Homo sapiens: one gene and its partners. The protein of the gene in region 2 purifies or fractionates together with the protein of the main gene of each other region. This does not show direct contact. Each region holds a gene or a part of one and is shown on either strand. Other genes may lie near its edges.

What was found.
Region 1: the proteins of ZNF207 (region 2) and GPI purify together in Homo sapiens (affinity purification with mass spectrometry, with the first as the bait; one large-scale study listed by BioGRID). This does not show direct contact.
Region 3: the proteins of ZNF207 (region 2) and TRAP1 purify together in Homo sapiens (affinity purification with mass spectrometry, with the first as the bait; one large-scale study listed by BioGRID). This does not show direct contact.
Region 4: the proteins of ZNF207 (region 2) and SETD1A purify together in Homo sapiens (affinity purification with mass spectrometry, with the first as the bait; one study listed by BioGRID). This does not show direct contact.
Region 5: the proteins of ZNF207 (region 2) and EIF5B purify together in Homo sapiens (affinity purification with mass spectrometry, with the first as the bait; one large-scale study listed by BioGRID). This does not show direct contact.

Annotation. Positions count from the first base shown.
Region 1 is NC_000019.10:34,388,744-34,392,924, reverse strand, and holds part of GPI (glucose-6-phosphate isomerase), read right to left. Parts: intron 1-4,181. UniProt on the Homo sapiens protein: In the cytoplasm, catalyzes the conversion of glucose-6-phosphate to fructose-6-phosphate, the second step in glycolysis, and the reverse reaction during gluconeogenesis.
Region 2 is NC_000017.11:32,374,157-32,378,337, forward strand, and holds part of ZNF207 (BUB3-interacting and GLEBS motif-containing protein ZNF207), read left to right. Parts: 3' UTR 1-4,181. UniProt on the Homo sapiens protein: Kinetochore- and microtubule-binding protein that plays a key role in spindle assembly. ZNF207/BuGZ is mainly composed of disordered low-complexity regions and undergoes phase transition or coacervation to form temperature-dependent liquid droplets.
Region 3 is NC_000016.10:3,710,911-3,715,091, reverse strand, and holds part of TRAP1 (heat shock protein 75 kDa, mitochondrial isoform 1 precursor), read left to right. Parts: intron 1-4,181.
Region 4 is NC_000016.10:30,960,073-30,964,253, forward strand, and holds part of SETD1A (histone-lysine N-methyltransferase SETD1A), read left to right. Parts: intron 1-1,194; coding exon 1,195-1,465; intron 1,466-3,360; coding exon 3,361-3,482; intron 3,483-4,021; coding exon 4,022-4,181. UniProt on the Homo sapiens protein: Histone methyltransferase that catalyzes methyl group transfer from S-adenosyl-L-methionine to the epsilon-amino group of 'Lys-4' of histone H3 (H3K4) via a non-processive mechanism.
Region 5 is NC_000002.12:99,389,153-99,393,333, forward strand, and holds part of EIF5B (eukaryotic translation initiation factor 5B), read left to right. Parts: intron 1-565; coding exon 566-697; intron 698-1,066; coding exon 1,067-1,249; intron 1,250-1,391; coding exon 1,392-1,553; intron 1,554-3,814; coding exon 3,815-3,946; intron 3,947-4,181. UniProt on the Homo sapiens protein: Plays a role in translation initiation.

The DNA of each region.
Region 1 (4,181 bases), on a different chromosome or scaffold from region 2:
ACCCAGGGCCTCATACCTGCGCCAGGGCCCACCTCCTCAGACACGGACAGACCCCAGGCCTCATACCTGTGCCAGGGCCCACCTCCTCAGACACGGACACACCCAGATCCTCATACTCATACCAGATCCTACCTCCTCAGATATGGACAGACCCAGGGTCTCACACCCATGCCCAGCCTCACCTCCCCAGACACTGGCAGACCCAAGGCCTCATACCTGCACACAGCTTCAACTCTTTAGACATGGTCAGACCCAGATGCTCATGCCTGTGCCAGATCCTACCTCCTCAGACATTGAAAAACCCAGATCCTCATACCTGTATGAGATCCTACCTCCTCAGATACTGACAGACCCAGATCCTCATACCAGGGCCAGATCCTACTTCTTCAGACACTAGAAGACACAGACCCTCCTACCAGGGACAGATCCTACCTCCTCAAATACTGACAAACCCAGATCCTCATACCAGGGCCAGATCCAACCACTTCAGACACTGACAGACTCAGGTCTTCATACCTGTATCAGATGCTACCTCCTCAGACATAGACCCAGATCCTAATACCTGTATCAGATCCTACTTCCTCAGATACAGAGACATGAAGATCCTCACACCTGTACCAGATTCCTAATTCCTCAGACACTGACACACACACAGATCCTCATACCTGTACCAGATTCCTACCTCTTCAGATATTGACAGACTCAGATCCTCATAAGGGGGCCAGATCCAACCTCCTCAGAAATTGACAGACTGAGATCTTCTTACTAGGGCCAGATCCTACCTCCTCAGAAACTGACAGATGCAGATCCTCTTACCAGTGCCAGATCCTACCTCCTCAGACATTAACAGACCCAGATCCTCACACCTGTACCAGATCCTACCTTCTCAGACATTGAAAGACCCAGATCCTTATACCTGCACCAGATCCTACCTCCTCAGACATGAACAGAACCAAATCCTCATACTCATGCCAGATCTTACCTCCAGACATGACAGACCCAGATCCTCATACCTGTACCAGATACTGCCTCCTCAGACATTGACAGACCCAGATCCTCATGCTTATGCCAGATCCTACCTCCTCAGTCACTGACAGAACCAGATTCTCATAATTAATACCAGATCCCACCTCCTCAGACACTAGAAGATCCAGATTCTCATACCTGTGCCAAATGCCACCTCCTCAGACACCCGAAGACCCAGATCCTCACAACTGTACCAGATCCTACCTCCTCAGATACTGACAGACCCAGATCCTCATACATGTACCAAATTCCCACCTCTTCAGAAATTGACAGACCCGGATCCTCATACCAGGGACACATCCTACCTGCTCAGACATGGACAGACCCGGATTCTCATACCAGGGCCAGATCCTACCTCCTCAGACATTGACAGACCCAGATCCTCATACCTATAAGAGATCGTACCTCCTAAGTCACTGGAAGACACATCTCCTCATTCCTGTACCAGATGGTAACTCCTCAGACTTTGACAGACGCAGATCCTCATACCTGTACCAGATTCCTACCTCCTCTGATATTGACAGACCCAGATCCTCATTCCTGTACCAGATGGTAACTCCTCAGACATGGACAGTCCTAGATCCTCATACCAGGGCCAGATCTTACCTCCTTAGACATGGACAGACCCAGATCCTCATACCAGGACCCGATCCCACCTCCTCAGATACTGATGGACACAGATCCTCATACTTGTACCCAGCCTCACTTCCCCAGACACTAGAAGACTCAGGGCTTCATACCTGTGCCAGATGCTATCTCCTCAGGCACTGGAAGCCCAAGGGCCTCAAACCTGAGTCCAAACTCACCTCCTCAAACACTGGAAGACGCAGATCCTCATATCTGTGCCAGGTGCTACCTCCTCAGACATGGAAGACCCATATCCTCATACCTGTGCCAGGTGCTACCTACTCAGACACGGGAAGACCCAGATCCTCATACCTGTGCCAGGTGCTACCTCCTCAGACACAGGAAGACCCAGATCCTCATACCTGTGCCAGGTGCTACCTCCTCAGACACGGGAAGACCCAGATACTCATACCTGTGCCAGGTGCTACCTCCTCAGACACTGGAAGACCCAGATTCTCATACCTGTGCCAGGTGCTACCTCCTCAGACATGGAAGACCCATATCCTCATACCTGTGCCAGATGCTACCTCCTCAAACATTGGGAAGACCCAGATCCTCATACCTGTGCCAGGTGCTACCTTCTCAGACACAGGAAGACCCAGATTTCATACCTGTACTAGATGTTACCTCCTCAGACACCAGCAGACCCAGGGCCTCATACCTGTAACCTGCTGTTATCTCCTCAGACACCAGCAGACCCAGGGCCTCATACTTGTACCAGATCCTACCTCCTCACACACTGGAAGACCCAGATGTCATACCTGTACTTAGCCCACCTCCTTGGATACCTCTTCCAGCACCACATACCTGTACCAGGCCCTACTTCCATAGACACTTGCAGACCCAGAGCCCCTTACCGGTGCCAGGACCCACCTTCTCAGTCTCATACTTGTGCCCAGGTATGCTTCCTTGGACAATGAAAGACCCAGCAGCTCTCTGCTACACTTGGCTAGGTCTCCTCAGATATTAAAAACCCACAGCTACATTTCTGTTCCCCAGCCCACCTGCTTGAACAGTGGCCCAGTGCCTCATACTTGTGCCAGGCCCCACATCCTCAGATACTGACAAACCCAGATCCTCACACCTGTGCCATTCTTTGTTGAACAATGAAGACTCATCACTTTGTACCTGTGCCCATTCCCAACTCCTCAGGTGGTACTGACAGATCCAGAACCTTAGACCTGTGCCTCACCCCACCTCCTGGACACTGACAGGCCCAGTGGGTCATATCTGGGCTTGACCGATCTTCTCGGCCTATCACCTAGGCCTATCATTCACACTGCACCTTCTCAAGCCACACCTGCAAGCTCCACTTGGTGCCATCAGAGTCCTCAGAACTTCACGGATGTCTTCCTAACAGCTGTTTATGGAGCACCTCCCACATTTCTAGCACAGGCAACGGACACAGAGTGTGGGAGAGAGACGTACATCAAATAATCATGCCAATAAATGTGAAACTGAGAAACAAGTGCTGAGGAGAAATTGGAACATGGTGCTGAGGCCACTTATAAAAGGAACCTGAGGGGTACTTGACCCTTGATCTCAAGAACGAGCAGGCATGACCCAGAGAAGCACTGAGGGAGCATTCCAGCAGCCATAACAGCACATGCAAAGGTCCCGTGGCCAAAGCAGTCTTTCTCAAGCGTGACAGAATTAAGGCCCACAGAAAATGATCTGAGTGACTTCTCAGTTCTCCCAAGGATGGTCCAAGACTAGTAACCTTCTAGACACGAAGGAGAGGTGCCCACTTATTACATCCAGTAGATGCCTTGGGCTGTGAGGGCTTAATTCTCTCCTGGAAGCCCACTGAGGCAGGGGGAAGCATAGCACCTTCCAGAGGATAAAGGAAGGGGTGGGGACCGCAGGGTGGAAGCTGAGAGGCACGGTGGGAGGACTGAGAACAGTCTGCGGCTAAGACAAGGACAGAAGCAAACAAGCCACTTTGAAGCCCCGGAGATGGACTGGGGAGTGCAGAGGACTCATTCTGGGAGCTCTCCAGTGTGGCCGAGAGGTTTCTGGCTTGGGCAATGAGATGACCGGTGGGGCCACTCACTTGGAAAGGCTCTGGGTTTCCGGGAACCTTACCTGACAGACGCAGTCCTACAGACTACATCATGCTTGACATAGGCTCTCACATCTCATCTAACAGATGCAGTTCTATTTTTTTCTTTTTTTTTTAAGAGACAGGGTCTTGCTCTGTTGCCCAGGTGGAGTGCAGTGGCATGATCACAGCTCACCGCAGCCTCAAACTCCTGGGCTCAAGTGATCCTCCCATCTCAGCCTCCCCAGTAGCTGGGACTACAGGCACACACCACCATGCTTGACTATTTTTTAAATTTTTTGTAGAGATGGGGTCTTGCTCTGTTGTCCAGGCAGGTTTTGAACACCTGGCCTCAGCCTCCCATCTCAGCCTCCCGAAGCTCAGGGATTACAGCCATGAGCCACCACACCCAGCCCAGACTCAGCTCTAGAAACTAAACTTCAGCACACAGCCAGCCCTCTGGCTGACAGAGTCCAGGCTGCTCACC
Region 2 (4,181 bases):
CCCAGAGTGCTGGAGTAGCAGGTGTGAGCCACCGCGCCTGGCCAAAATCTGCATTCTTTTTTTTTTTTTTTTTTTTTTTTTGAGACTGTCTCGCTGTGTCACCCAGGCCAGAGTGCAGTAGCACGATCTCAGCTCACTACAACCTCCACCTCCTGGATTCAAGCGATTCTCCTGTCTCAGCCTCCCGAGTAGCTGGGACTACAGGTGCTTGCCACCACACCCGGCTAATTTTTTGTATTTTTAGTAGAGACGGGGTTTCACCGTGTTAGCCAGGATGGTCTCGATCTCCTGACTTTGCGATCCCCCTGCCTCGGCCTCCCAAAGTGCTGGGATTACAGGCGTGGGCCACCGCGCTTGGCCAAAATCTGCATTCTTAATCACAAACTTACGCATTGAATGTTAAGGCTAAAAGGTCATCTGGAAATGCTTAATTTTAAAATATTTTCAAGCCTCACCACATTAGAGCAAATGTTAATGTAGAGCCCTGTAAAGGTGGGAAGGTGGTGTCTATGTGTGTGCTTGTGTATGTGGGGGTATAGACCATATAGTTGATATAACAACAGAATTTGGGTGTTACAGACCTTTCAGCATGGATGGATTACTAATTTTCAGGTATCGAAACTGAAATTTGATACCTGATCCTGTGGTAAAGTATGTTAAACTATGGTTTTGGAGTGATTATTTTGAGGTTCATTTTCAGCCTCACTGAACAGTGTTTTACGCACATGTGAAAAGTATCCACATTTGTTTCCAACTAAAATTTGCTTTTATTTGGTGAGAAAAGTTGTGTGCGTGTGTTTGTTGTAGGGAATAATTAGGGAATTGGAAGAGAGGCCAAAAACAAACCTGAATTACTTTTGTTTCTTGTGTTTGAGCCACGATTCTATCCAGATAGCAGTTTACTCTGAGCAGTAACAATGAACAAGCAGTATAGCATTTAGCAAACCTGGAATTGTTTGTATATGGTTTTCATTCTTGGAAGCATAAAGAAAAAATATGCATTAAATGAATTGTAAATTTTGACTTGTTAAATAACATGTTTTTCACTATAACTAATAGGATTTTAATATTTAAAGAATTTTGTTGCTTCCATGACAAAATATCCCATTGGACTATTTTATAACCTCAGTAATCAACATTTAAGAGTCCTTAATTGGAGATCTGTTTTCTCTATTACCTACCATCCTGCAATATGCTGAAATCTTTCTAAGTTGCTTATCTTAATTCTAATGGTGATAATTGAAAAAAGTGTGCTGGAAATACAGGCTCTTATCTGGTTGAGTACTGGGGGTGGGAAGGATTTAGTAATGTCATAATCTGTTGAAGGTAATATCTATAGATAACTAAGATAGTTCCTTTTTTTTTGTAGTTCTGTGACTCAGACAAATAAGATTTTGAGAATTATGTAGTTTTTAGGTGTCTGTAACATCCACTAGTAAAACTTGGCAAATGAAAGAAAATTGTGAAGTCACCACTTTAACTGAGTCAAAATTTTGTTTGAATAAGCTGATGAAAATAGACATGTACCCTAGAAGTAGATACTCTAAAATTATACAGACATGAATGTCTTTTTTAAAAGGTTGTCATTATTGACCTAATATTGAGTAATCTTTCTGCGTTATTCCAAATTGAAATTTGTTTGCTCTTCATTGTAACTTTTATGTAAAAGTCCTTTAAAAGGGGATTCAATTATAAGGCTATTTGACTATAGGGCAGATTTTTATAAGTAAACATTCCCCCAATTCCACTTATGCTAACTGTCTCATGACAGTAAAGTTTACTCCTTTTTAGAAACCCTTTCTCAGTATTTTAATTTCTGTCATTGAATCATTTAAATAATAACCTTTTGTTTTTATAGCAAAGAAATCATCTGACTTTTCTGTGTGATGTTTCTTGGCAAAATAAGCACTTGATGTATGGTCATGTACATAATGGATATTCATTAATTTTGTGATTAGTGCTGAGTTTTCTAAACTACTATCTTAAGCTCTTAGGCACCCTATTATGGATCTAATTCAAACCAATATGTAGGAAATGGAGAAAGTAGGACTTCAGTTTGCGCTTCCCAATAACTTTAAATATATCCACCTTTTCCAAGTGTTTAAGCCCTAAAACATCTATCTTTATTTTTTTACCTGGCATTTTTGTTAGAAAATAGATTACGTTTTAAAGTAACATTAAAAAAATTCTTCAGTAAGATAATTGCTTTTAATAAGTATATTTTTCTTGCTCTTGGCTCTATACATTTTTGCATAATATTTTAGTCTTGAAAAGCTTTTCATTTTCTTAACTCTGGAAAATAATAGTTTGGAACTAAATTAGTTTGAGAAATCTGAATCATCTCTCTTTAAATCTGTTCAGTTAGTCTCATGTATTCTCAGGGGAAAATGTCTTTATTTTACTAAGCGGAAGTAGTAGTCATATTGAGGCAGAAATTTGTAGCCCAAACAAGGTAGGTCTTCGCTGAAACTAATTTGAACTATTCCTATTTGAAGCAAATTGAACACTATTATAAATCTAGACTGGCTAATTAGATGGAAACTTTGATGGTTAGGTTCTTTAAGAGGCATACAATCCGTTATGAGAATGTTTATGTTTATGTTTTAATTTTTATCAAAATAACCTCAGAGGAGGTACATGTGAGTAAACTGTCTTAATGGTTGATTACTTGGAACCCACCCATTAATTCTAAATGATGTAATGGTCTATAAGGTAGTAATCTGGCACAGCTTCAGTAATGTGTGCTGTGTTTGTAAAAAGGTGAAGTACTTTATTGGCATTTTCTAAGCCCTCTGACATTGTTAGTGTCTGGGTTGGTTGGTTTGCATTTTACTATTATGGTGGAATCTGTGTTCCTTCACCATTGGTTAAGTCTGAGGAACTAACAGTGAAATTCATTGATGGCCAACTTGGATAAAAATGAAGAATGATATTTTCCCAGTTTACTACACATGGACCAATAGTGATTATTTGGGAGAGAACACTGGGTAGTATTGTTTGACTTAAGAACCTTAAATATATTGAAAAGTAATGGCATTCTTGCTCATGATTTGCATTTGTTAGTGAGGTCTCACCATAGTATTTTAATGTAGCTTCTTATTAAAATTTTATTCATAAATAGTTTAGCAGTCACAGAGGTGAAAAAAAAAAGATTTGCACCATCATATCCGAGTCTTTACTAATAAAATGAGGCTGCTTAAGTACCCAAGTGGAGCAAGGGAAGAGTTACTACAGTTACTGTAAGTCTGAGTTAGAAAAAATACAGAGCATCTAGTTATTGAGCAAAGCCCCCTTTTACCTGTTCGCTTATTCAAAGAGAAACAATAGAATTTGCTTCTCAGTACATGTTTTTAAAATTGAGAATCTCTGATGTGACAAAATCAATTTTTACAAAAGTTGAATTAAAAACTTTTAAAAATTGCTTGTCTTTGGGGGTATGTCTACATATTCGTTTAAATTTAGAAATTCCCACATGTTTAAGATATATGCCCATCCCCTTTTTAGAGTAATCAAAATTTCTATCACAGTTCACATACTGGAATACATAGTAAAATTGAGATGTGTCCAAGAGATTTTCAATGTTAATTAGCTCATTCTAAATAGCCAATATAAGGTAACTTCTGTTTAAAAAAAAAAAAAACTAGGGAAAAGTTTTAAATGTATTAGTATCAGGCTCTGAGGAAATTTAATGCACATTGACTTTTTAAACTATGGATTGAACTCCTCAGTTTAATACAATTTGTGTTTTTGTTAACTAGCAGCAGAATTTCAGCATTTGCTACTTACTGGTAGAGAAGAAAAATCCCACAGCCCTGCCAGTACAGGTTAGTTTAATCTGTAAGTACCTGATGTTCCTATTTTTTTCAAACATATCCATATAACTCACACAAGGAAGAAAGCTGTGCGGTTACTTAAATGTTAGTATAACTAATAATAGATCCATTGGACACTTTAAACACTCAGTACTTGGGCCAAAGTAGATCTAGGTTTGCTAACCCCAGTTGTAATAAAGGTGTAATACTGCTCCTTTGTTATCTCCTTGTGGTTCAACCTAAGTAGATACATTGTACATAAAAGGAAAAGACAGTTTCAGTTGGCTATGCCCTTGTTGATAGATGATATGGAGTCCAGGGCTTTGGGTCCAGGGTCTTTTACTTAAGCTATTTCATGGTGGTTCTCTC
Region 3 (4,181 bases), on a different chromosome or scaffold from region 2:
AAGCATTCCTCTGCCTGAGTCTAAGAAATGGAACATGTTCTTGGCAGCCTTCTGCGTGGCAGGTGCCCTTGTCATTGTCACCTGTGTGGATGAATGGGAAGGTAAATTGTTTGGATTGATTGAACGATGAGAGAATTTAGCTAAGAAAATACATGTCTTGTGCAACAGGGGAGAAAGAATAGTTTAGGCAGATCCACCTATGTAGAAAATCCAGACCTCTTGAAATTTTTTTCTTTTCTTGGGAAAGTATTTCCAGGTTGTAGCATGTGCCTGGCTTCAGGTGTGCGTGTCTTATGTCTGTGGAATCCTCTCGCCCATGCTACGCTGCCTCAGTCACCCATGAGCTCAGCCCTCTTACCCTTTCAGACCTCACTGACCCCTGACACTGCCAGCCCTGTCACTTGCCCTCAGAATATCTTATTTGATTTTTTTTGAGCCGGAGTCTTGCTCTGTTGCCCAGGCTGGAGTGCAGTGGTGCAACCTCAGCTCACCACACCCTCCGCCTCCTGGGTTCGAGTGATTCTCCTGACTTCGCCTCCCACGTAGCTGGGACTACAGGCGCATGCCACCACACCCAGCTAGGTTTTGTATTTTTAATAGAGATGGGGTTTCACTATGCTGGCCAGGGTGGTCTCGAACTCCTGACCTCATGATCCACTAGCCTTGGCCTCCCAAAATGCTGGGATTACAGGCGTGAGCCACTGCGCCTGGCCTACCCTCAGAATATTTCTGTGAGGGGTGGGCTAGGATATCCGCTTGTGGACTTTATATTTGTCATTTTTGCCCATAACAGTTTATTCAGCAAATACATTTCCAATGCCCCCGAGTCGTCAAAGAAAATGTGACCCTGCTGTCTGGAGTCATAGGTGGCTGCTGAGCAGTGTACCAGGGCCATCTTGGTGGCCTGGACAGCACATTAGAGAAACAAGAGCTGCTTGCCCCAGGGTAAGTTTCACAGATGAGGAGCGATTTGGGCCGAGTGTCCAAGGCTGTTTTCACTGGAGGGGAGGGAGGAACGTTCCATGTCTGGAAAGCTGCAGGTGCAAGGGTAAGGAGATAGCTCTGAATAATTGGTTTGATGAAAGACTTGCGGGAGTGTGCAGGAGTGATGGTGAATGAGGCTAGCAGTTGTGTCTTTTCTGTCAGATATAAGCTTGTGCGTAGGAGCCTCATCCTGCATTCCTCAGGACAGTCACAGAGCCAGCCCTGGGCCTGGTGTGTGGGGAGCCCAGCCACGTGGCCCACCATGAGAGCTTTTCGTCAGAGCTCCAACTGTCAGAAGTGTCAGATGTGCCAGTAGAAGGATGAGGCCGCCTCCTAAAGGAGAGGGAAGACCTGGAAAGATCAACAGCAGACGCAGTCTCCCAAAGCAAACGTGATTCTGTGGTCAGGCAGGTACGGTGACGGGTTGGTCATTTTGCATGACGAGGTGACTGCCACAATCACCAAGGGTGCCGAGTCCAGTCTCCTGGTCATGCCAGATGCTCTTGTTTTCGTGAAATTGCCAGAACATGACTGAGGCAACCACGATAGGACTGGTTGGTGCAGGCGTTAAGATCTTGGGCCTTTTTGTTCTCTGTAAGCTGGAGCCTTTGCTGGAACTTCCTGTCTTGGAAATCAGAGTTGTGAGAGTAGGTCCCCTGCCAGCACCAGGAAGGTCGGGAGAGCTGGTTTCCTCACTTTGCTCAGGGCTCAAGTACTAGCTAGTTTGTTTCATCTTCCAAAAAGAGCCTCACCTGGACCCCGCTCCTGTAGGTGGTGCCTGCCTGCTGCGCCCTCCCCTTCAGTACTTCGTTTTGTTGACGGGTTTTGCCTCCTCCCTCTGCTCTCCCTTTGTTTGGAGCCTGTGCTGTTTGATTTCCGTGTCTTGTGTGCTGCACCCTTCAGGAGAATTCAGGTGAATTTCTGGTGCTCTCCGGCTGTTCTTTTCAGAGTGGAGGGGAGTAGTACTTGCTGGTCAGTTGCGACTCTGTCTGTGAAACAGCTCTTTGTGTTGCTGAGATGACGCTAGAGGTGTAGCGTCCATGACATGTTTGTCGTCTGATTAAGCTGTGGTGCTGGCACTTAGACGGCAGAGGAAGGTGTGGCCCAGCTGTCCAAGGCCACCAGGAGGACCTTCAGCTTAGTTAGGACCAAGGGAACTGAGTTATCTGAGTGCCTGAAAAAGAACACATCAGGCCGGGCGCGGTGGCTCTCGTCTGTAATCCCAGCACTTTGGGAGGCCGAGGTGGGTGGATCACTTGAGTTCAGGAATTTGAGACCAACCTGGCCAACATGGCGAAACCCCGTCTCTACTAAAAATACAAAGAAATTAGCCAGGGTGGTGGCAGGCGCCTGTAATCCCAGATACTTGGGAGGCTGAGGCACGAGAATTGCTTGAACCTGGGAGGTGGAGGTTGGAGGTTGCAGTGAGCCAAGATTGTGCCACTGCACTCCCTCCTGGGCGACAGTGCAAGACTCTGTCTTGGAAACAAACACATCAATCCGAATGTAAGAGATTAGCAAAGCGTTTATTGGTTACTGGGTGAGTAGTTGGCCTAAGCTAAGACAAAAGAGGAATCTCCAAGTATTTTGCTACCCCTTGGCAGGAAGAGAGGGAATGCAGCTTGCGGGGTGGGGATGGGGGTGTCAGGTTGATAAGAAAACTGTGGGAAAATAAACATTTACTCCTGCCCCCCATGTCAGTAAATACCATGTGACAAAGGTGAGTTCCATGAAAGAGGCTGTTACTGAGGCCTGTGATACTTGCTTGTCTCAAAATGCTGACATATCTTTTTTTTTTTTTTTTTTTTTTTTTTTTTTTTTTGAGACAGATTCTTTCTGTCGCCAGGCTGAAGTGCAGTGGCATGACCTCAGCTCACTGCAACTTCCGCCTCCTGAATTCAGGCAGTTCTCCTGCCTCAGCCTCCTGAGTAGCTGGGACTACAGGTGCATGCCACCATGGCCAGCCAATTTTTGTATTTTTAGTAGAGACGAGGTTTCACCGTGTTGGGCAAGATGGTCTCAATCTTTTGACCTTTTGATCTGCCTGCTTTGGCCTCCCAAAGTGCTGGGATTACAGACATGAGCTACCACGTCGGGCCTGACAAAGAATCTTGATAGCGATTGAAAATGTATCCATTCATACTCAAATGAAGTAAAAAGTGCTTTTGGGTTCAAAGCCAGAGAATGTTCATGGATGGCGTTTTTGGTGCCTCAAGTGTAGCCAGCTAGAACTTTTCTTACCACCGTCCTGCTTAGTCCTACTGAAGACCTGCCTTCTACTAGGAAGCTGCTCTTAGTCCACAAAGTGGCTTCCCTGTAGTTCCACAGCATTTAACAAAATAGATTTCAGGGAGTTTATTTGTGGTGTGGCTGGTTATTTCTGCTAAAACCACTAGGAATTACCATAAAAGCTGTAGCTTGGAGAAACAGTATCTACTTGCGGGAGTATTACTGCCACCTGTGTTTTTTTTGTTTTTGTTTTGGTTTTTGTTTTTTTTTTGTTTTTTTCAAGATGGAGTCTTGCTCTGTTTCCCAGGCTGGAGTGCAGTGGCACGAACTCGGCTCACTGCAATCTCCACCTCCCGGGTTCAAGCAGTTCTCCTGCCTCAGCCTCCCAAGTAGCTGGGGCTACAGGCATGCACTACCGTGCCCGGCTAATTTTTGTATTTTTAGTTGAGGTAGAGTTTCACCATGTTGGCCAGGCTGGTCTTGAACTTCTGACCTTGTGATCTGCCTGCCTCGGCCTCCCAAAGTGCTGGGATTACAGGTGTGCGCCACCGTTCCCAGCCCTGCCATTGGCTTTTTAACCAGGTGAATTCCTGTAGATTGGGTAGATTGAAAGGACATGTAGCTGAATCATTGGTTTTAAAAGGAATGGCTCAGTTACTTCATAGCCATATAATTAAGAAATGTGGCTAGAAGGTAAAAAATTGGCCAGGCCTGGTAGCTCATGCTTGTAATCCCAGCACTTTGGGGGCTGCGGCGGGAGGATCCTGTGAGTTTAGGAGTTTGAGACCAGCCTGGGCAACCTAGAGAGACCCCCATCTCTACCAAAAAACCCTTTTTTTTTTTTTTCCAATTAGCTGGGTGTGCCTGTGGTCCCAGCTACCCAAGAGGCTGAAGTGGGAGGCTCCCTTAAGCCTTGAGAAGTCGAGGCTGCAGTGAGCTGTGATCACGCCACTGCACTACAGTCTGGG
Region 4 (4,181 bases), on a different chromosome or scaffold from region 2:
CTGGCTCTTTTCTTTTTTATTCTTCATCTTTCTATTCTCATTGCCACTTAATGTAGACCTTGGTATTCATTTCACCTGGTCTCCTTGCCTTCGTTCTTGCCTCAGTTTCTCCTCTGCCTTGCTGTCATTTGTCTCTTTGGCTTCACTACGCTGCTGTTTTCCTTTTGTTGCCAAGTCCATGTTTTGGGACACTGACATGTATGGTTATTGACCTGGCCAAGCCTTATCCTCCGCCTTGACACCACACCCCTGTGTTACATCCACACCATAACGCTTTGCGGTTTTTCAAAAACACCAAGTTGTTTTATATTTCCATGTTCCAGGGGTCCTTGTCATTTGATGAATTGTTAATCCCCAAATCTCAGTAAGAATGACACCATCTTTATGAATTCTTCCCTGATCATACTCTGTACAAAAGTTTCCTTCCCTGGGCTCCAGAACACCATGTATGCGTCAGCTGCCACTGGGTCGTGTTGTGTTTGTATGTGCATGTCATGCTGCTTTTCTGTATGGGAATCTCTTCCTTTCTATCTCTGTATTTCCAGTGCCTCGTTCATGGTAGTTACCTAGTAAAGGCTGAGCTAGGAAATCATCGCCCTGTAGCTCGTTCTCTCCACGTATATTTATTCCTCAGTGTGTACATTTCTTTCTTTCTTTCTTTTTTTTTTTTTTTTTTTTTTTGAGACGGAGTCTCGCTGTGTTGCCCAGGCTGGAGTGCAGTGGTGTGATCTCGGCTTAGTGCAACCTCTGCCTGCCAGGTTCAAGTGATTCTCCTGCCTCACCCTCCTGAGTAGCTGGGATTACAGGTGCCCACCATCACATCCAGCTAAATTTTTTTTTTTGTATTTTTAGTAGAGACAGGGTTTTATCATGTTGGACAGGCTGGTCTTGAACTCCTGACTTCTGGTGATCCGTCCACCTCATCCTCCCAAAGTGTTGGGATTATAAGTGTGAGCTGCCACACCCGGCCTAGTTTGCACATTTCTGTTCTTAATTCTTGCTGTTATTCTGTGGTGAGAAGAATTCAGGGAAAAGGGGTCAGGTCTGATGGATCCCTTATTTTGGGCCCCTTCCCTTGCCCCTCACTTTCCCGGATCTCTCTCTTGACTTCATGGAGCTTGCTAAAGTTTCCCGAAGGACAAAGGAACAGTGGTCAGTGTTGAGACCCCATACCAACTCCTGTTCTTTCCCCAGCTGGACGAGTTCTATATTGGACAGATTCCACTGAAGGAAGTGACTTTTGCAAGGCTGAATGACAACGTGCGGGAGACCTTCCTGAAGGATATGTGCCGTAAGTACGGTGAGGTGGAAGAGGTAGAGATCCTCCTTCACCCCCGTACGCGCAAGCACCTGGGCCTGGCCCGTGTGCTCTTCACCAGCACTCGGGGCGCCAAGGAAACGGTCAAAAACCTCCACCTTACCTCCGTCATGGGCAACATCATCCATGCCCAGCTTGACATCAAAGGTGAGGACTCCTCTGCCTGCCACTCAGGCTTGGCCTCCAGCGGAGGTTGTACATGCAAATGCCTGTCAGGGTCAGGCAGGCGCCCAGGGTCATGATCTGAAACTGCTGGGGCCAGTTGTGTTTCTGAAATCAGATCAGATTTTAGAGTGGAATTATGGTACATGGATTTTTGTGTGTGTGGTGTCTCCAGCAAGGTCGGGCAATAGGCCATAATCAAGCACATAACTATCTGTAAAAAAAAAAAAAAATCATATGAAGGGTTGTACTAGGTAAGATGAATAGATTGTAGTAAATCAGCCCAGGTCAGGTTGGTTGCTTGGTTGGTTTTTGAGACAGGATCCTGCTCTGTCACCTAGGCTGGAGAGCAGTGGCGTGATCTTTCCTCACTGCAGCCTCCAGCTCCTGGGCTCAGCCACCCCAGCCTCCTGAGTAGCTGGGATTATGGGCATGCACCACCACACCTGGCCAAAGTTTTTTTGATTATTTGCAGAGATGAAGTCTCACTACACTGCCCAGCCTGTTTTTAATTTTTTTTTTTTTTTTTTGAGATGGAATCTCAATCTGTCGCCCAGGCTGGAGTGCAGTGGCACGATCTTGGCTCACTGCAACCTCCACCTCCCAGGTTCAAGTGATTCTTCTGCCTCAGCCTCTTGAGTAGCTAGGATTACATTTATGCGCCACTACGCCCGGCTAATTTTTGTATTTTTAGTAGAGATAGGGTTTCACCCTGTTAGCCAGGCTGGTCTTGAACTCCTGACCTCAAGTGATCTGCCTGCCTCGGCCTCCCAAAGTACTGGTATTACAGGCATGAGCCACCATGCCTGGCCTCTTTTTAATCTTTCTATATGCTATTCTATAACCCATATAGGTTTTGGTGCCAGATTCTCAGAAATACTGGATTTTCTGGGTTTTTAGGTTTGGAAATTTGAGATAGAGAGTAAAGGAGCTGTGAACACAAGCGAGGTGGTCTGGGCTTCTGTGTTGAGTGATGGGGAGCAGTGGGGTCTGTGGCGAGCTGCAGATTGCAGTATTGTCTGGAGGAGGCAGCCATTAGTAGGCACTGGCCAGTTTGCAAGTGGAAATGAGGTTTAACATTCTTGAATTTGGTTTGTAAAAGAAAGCCAGGGCCGGGCATGCGGTGGCTCACGCCTGTAATCCCAAGACTCTGAGAGGCCAAGGTGGGCAGATCACCTGAGGACAGGAGCTCGAGACCAGCCTGGTCAACATGGTGAAACCCCATTTCTATTAAAAATAACAAAAATCCGGACGTGGTGGTTCATGCTTATAATCCCAGCTACTCGAGAGGCTGAGGCATGAGAATCACTTGAACCTGGGAGGTGGAGATTACATCGTGCCACTGCACTCAAGCCAGAAATTTGGGTTTTTGTGTGAAATCTCATGGTTTTTAAATACCATGTTTCTTTCCTCACAAGGTGTTTCTGAGGTGTTCACTCCACAGCTCCTGCAGGCTCCGTTAGTCCCCCGGTTGCTGTTCTGCATGCTTTAGTTTACAGGATAAAGAGCATGGGGTGATCGAGCCTCTGGGTTTGAATTCCAATTTTTCCAATGACCAATTCTGTGACTTTGTGTAGGTCGCTTTTAAGCCTCTAGAACAGAGGTACTGATGCTTCCCTTCTGGTGATCCAACATGGTAAAATAAGTAGAAGTGTTTTTGATAAATCGTGAAGTGTCATAAAATATGTTGTTTGTGGTAGTTTAGAGGTAGAGATAAGGTAGAAGGTCCCAAAGGTAGAGTTATGGTAGGAGAACTGAAATCCTGAAACCCAGATTCCAAGAAATTGTAGGAAACTTGAGGCCTGAGAAAGCAGGAATACCAGATCAGGAAGGAGTTAGTATCTCCATCTGACAATTGGTTCCCATTTCCCTCCCTCCAGGACAACAACGAATGAAATACTATGAACTAATTGTCAATGGCTCCTACACCCCTCAGACTGTGCCCACTGGGGGCAAGGCCCTGAGTGAGAAGTTCCAAGGCTCGGGTGCAGCCACTGAGACGGTGAGAAGTTTGTGGCTACCACAGCCCCTAGCCATGTGGGCATGGTGTCCGGGTGCCCGGAGCAGGAGCAGTCTTCGGGAGGTTCCGGGCTTTCCCGTTAAACAAAGAAGAGCCAAGCAAAGCTGCTGAGATGCTTTCAAAAGACAGGGAACTAGGGGCCAGGCACAGTGGCTCACGCCTGTAATCCCAGCACTTTGGGAGGCCGAGGCGGGTGGATCATGAGGTCAGGTGATTGAAACCATCCTGACTAACACGGTGAAACCCCATCTCTACTAAAACTGCAAAAAATTAGCCAGGCATGGTGGTGGGCGCCTGTAGTCCTAGCTACTTGGGAGGCTGAGGCAGGAGAATGGCATGAACCCGGGAGGCGGAGCTTGCAGTGAGCCGAGATCACGCCACTGGACTCCAGCCTGGGCAATAGAGCGAGACTCCGTCTCAAAAAAAAAAAAAGGGAACTAGGATTCCTGGTTTGGGAAAGGGCAGGTCTCAAGTGGTGTTTGAGCCCATTCCTCTCTCCTTGCCCTGCTCTGTCGCTCTAGGCCGAATCCCGCCGCCGCTCTTCCTCTGACACAGCTGCCTACCCAGCAGGCACCACTGCGGTGGGCACTCCTGGCAACGGCACCCCCTGCTCCCAGGACACAAGCTTCTCCAGCAGCCGACAAGATACCCCATCTTCCTTTGGCCAGTTCACACCTCAGT
Region 5 (4,181 bases), on a different chromosome or scaffold from region 2:
CCCAGACAGATTATGCTTTTGATTGTTTGTTTGGCTAGCAAGTATTTTTCATTTCTTCTATGCTCATTTATCTCTCATGTTGAAAAGTGAGGGAAAATAGATTCTGTCATTAACAAAACAGATTTAATCCTAATTTGAGCAATAAAATAATTAAAATAGGCTGTTCCCTTAGAAAATATATATTTTTTAATTTTTTGGTATATAATTTTATAGTGATGGTACTTGCTGGGATTGATTGATTTGTTACAAAAACTGTTTCGGAATTCCAACAATATACATTAATAGTCTTAGGATAATTCTAGGATGTTATCTTTTGCAAACAAATGGCAGCCACTTAGGAACTCATGGAGGCTGACAGGGGCAGCATGGCACCACAGCAGTTTCTAATTTAAGAGCAGGTGCCGATAAGCAGTCTGAAAGGAGCTTTTGGTACAATAAAGTGTATGAGTAAGTCACACTGTTCTGTATATATGAGACACACATGAGGAATTTTCTGGAGCTATTAATACAGTTCTTGAATGTTCTGAATTTTTTAGAGATCTTTCTCATGAAAAAACTTTTTCAGATTGATAGGTTATATGATTGGAAAAAGAGTCCTGACTCTGATGTGGCTGCTACTTTAAAGAAGCAGAAAAAGAATACAAAAGATGAATTTGAGGAGCGAGCAAAGGCTATTATTGTAGAATTTGCACAGCAGGTAAGAAGGCCTTCCTTCTTTCTGAAGAGCCTATCTCAGAATATGTATTATATTATCTTTATAATGAAGTCAGCATTTTCATTAATACTGGTTCTTTTCCTCTGTTGACAGCAATTACTTTTTTTAAATTCTTCTTCCCTTTTCTCCTTTTTCTTTGCAGTCTGAATACTTTAATTTAGAAAACTGAGTTGACTTAGAACTACTTTGCTATAATACAGTTAATGCTTATAGGATATACATGATCATTTTTAGTGTTTATGAGGAGTTTCAAAATGATGAGCCATTTGCTCATCCGGCTTCTAGTGAGGCACACCTATTCCAGATACGTTTTCTTTACAGCCTGGCATTTTGGATGATTTTTGCTCCTAGGGTTTGAATGCTGCTTTGTTTTATGAGAATAAAGATCCCCGCACTTTTGTGTCTTTGGTACCTACCTCTGCACATACTGGTGATGGCATGGGAAGTCTGATCTACCTTCTTGTAGAGTTAACTCAGACCATGTTGAGCAAGAGACTTGCACACTGTGAAGAGCTGAGAGCACAGGTGATGGAGGTAATGATCAACTTTTCAGTTTATTGTTTTTTTTTTTTTTAAAAATAGCAAGTTCCTTGAGTGGAGGATATTTACTACTTTTAGATTTAATGAACATGGTGCATTGTATGTATGTCTTTCTCTTTGCATTAATGCCTTTTAGGTTAAAGCTCTCCCGGGGATGGGCACCACTATAGATGTCATCTTGATCAATGGGCGTTTGAAGGAAGGAGATACAATCATTGTTCCTGGAGTAGAAGGGCCCATTGTAACTCAGATTCGAGGCCTCCTGTTACCTCCTCCTATGAAGGAATTACGAGTGAAGGTATGCTGAGGTGGGAAGCATTGACACGTGGGGACTTGTACAGTGTTTAGAAGTTCTGCTGAGATGGTTTCCTCACTTTGAAAGCTGTTTGACTTAATACAGAACACATACATCCCTCGCTCTCCCTTTTATTTTAGTTGTCATCATACAGGAAGGCCTGTCTGTCAGAGTAGAGATGTGTGAAAGTACCTGCTTACCAGACTGGGCCTTTGCCAGATTCTAAACTACACTGTTATGGTTCTACACTGCTAAATACGGTTGACTCTTGAACAACATGAGGGCTAGGGGCACTGACTCCCTGGCCAGTTGAAAATCCACATATATTTTTTGACTCCCCAAAAACTTAACTCCTAATAGCCTACCATTGACCAGAAGCCTTACCAATCACATACACAGTCGACTAACATGTTTTGTATGTTTTATATATTACATACTGCATTCTTACAGTAAAACAAGCTAGAGAAAAGAAAACGTGATTAAGAAAATCATAAGGAAAATAGATTTACTATTTGTTAAGTGGAAGTGGATCATCATAATGGTCCTCATTCTCATCTTCATGTTGAGTAAGCTGAGAGGGAAGAAGGAGAGGGGTAGGCCTTGCTGTGTTTGGTGGCAGAGGCAGAAGAAAATCTGAGTATAAGTGGACATATGCAGTTCAAGCCCATTTTGTTCAAGGGTCAGCTGTAGTTTTTTAACATTTTTAATTGTGAAATAAAACATTGCTCCTGAAAAGTACACACAACATAGAAGAAAAGTTTAACACATTTTTGGGAAGCAACCAGATGGAGAATCAGAACGCTGCTGGCACCCAGAAGCTTCCTGTGTGCTTCTTCCTGATCAACTCCCCTGCCTTCCCCTCCTACCCCCTGACCTTTCATAGAGTTAACCATGGTTGCATTTTATGACAGTAACAAATATCCTTGCTTTGCTTTGTTTTTGTGTCTAAGAGTACTTCCCTTAGAAGTGTCTGTAGACTTTATGTAGAAATGGAGTTATTCTCAGTGTGTACTTTTATAGCTGGCTCTTTTTTTTTTTTTTTTTTTGGTGATAGGCTCTCACTGTCACCCAGGCTGGAGTGCAGTGGTGCAGTCACAGTTCACTGCAGCCTCAACCTCCCCGGGGTTCAGGTGATCCTCCCACCTCAGCCTCCTGAATAGTTGGGACTATAGGTACGCACCACCACACCTGGCTAATTTGTTTACAGATGGGACTTTGTCATGTTGCCCAGGCTGGTCTTGACCTCCTGGGCTCAAGCAATCCACCCACCTTGATCTCCCCAAAGTGCTGGGATTATAGGCATGAGCCACCATGCCTGGCCTATATCTGGCTTCCTTTAGTGAAAAAAAAAAAGTATATAATTTTAAGATTTCTATTCCATTGTGTGACTATATCACAACATATCTATCTGTTCTGTTGATGGGAAATGTAGGTGATCTCCAGTTTTTTATGTTTATTTTATTTTATTTTATTTTGAGATGGAGTCTCAGTCTGTCATCCAGGCTGGGATTACAGGTGCACGCCACCACACCCGGCTAATTTTTGTATTTTTAGTAGAGGTGGGGTTTTGCCGTGTTGGCCAGGCTAGTCTCGAACTCCTGACCTCAGCCTCCCTAAGTGAGCCACCGCACCCGGCCCAGTTTTTGATTTTTGTTGTTACTAATAATGCTGCTGCTGTGAACATCTCTTGATGTGTTTGTGCCAGTTTCCCAGGGTATGTATACCTAGGAGTGAAGGCCACACTTGTCTACAGTGGGTGTAACAAATTATATTCTCAACTGCAGTATTTTAGTTTCATTGTTTTACAGCTTCATCAGTTCTTGGATGTTAGGTTTTAAATTTTTTTTGCCATTCTGCTAAGTGTGTAGCTCATTGCCGTTTCAGTGTGCATTTGCCTAATTGTTAACCTGGTTGGTCATTTAAAAATGTTTATTGGCCATTTATTTCCTCCTTCGTGAGATGTACATTTTTCTTCTGCATTATCTTTCTTACAGATTTATATGCGCTTATATATTCAGGATACCGGTTTGTTAGTTGGTGTGTTTTGCAATATCTTCTACTCTTGTGACTTTTTTTTTCCTGTGGTATTTTGAGAAATGGAAATATTTAATTTTAATGTTAAATTTATCAGTCTTGTGATTATTGCTTTTTGTGCCTCGTTTAAGAAACCTCTCTCTAATATCATGATGAGATTCTCTTATATCATCTTCTACTGCTAACCACTTTTAAAGTACATTTGGTAACAAATGTTTTTATCTCTGTAGAACCAGTATGAAAAGCATAAAGAAGTAGAAGCAGCTCAGGGGGTAAAGATTCTTGGAAAAGACCTGGAGAAAACATTGGCTGGTTTACCCCTCCTTGTGGCTTATAAAGAAGATGAAATCCCTGTTCTTAAAGTAAGTTCATTTAAAAATTTTTTTCCTTAAAAGCTATTTGAGTTCTGGCATGTGTCAGCATTGCACATGCTAGGGATGGTGACCAAAACTGGCTTTGTCTTTGTGAAGCCTGCCATTTCTTGGCCTCTTAGCAAACTTGATGCTTTTGAATTACTTCAGTTTGTACAATCATAGAAATTGGTATAATTTTTATATGTACTAGAATTATAAAAATAATGCATTTTATTCAAATAAA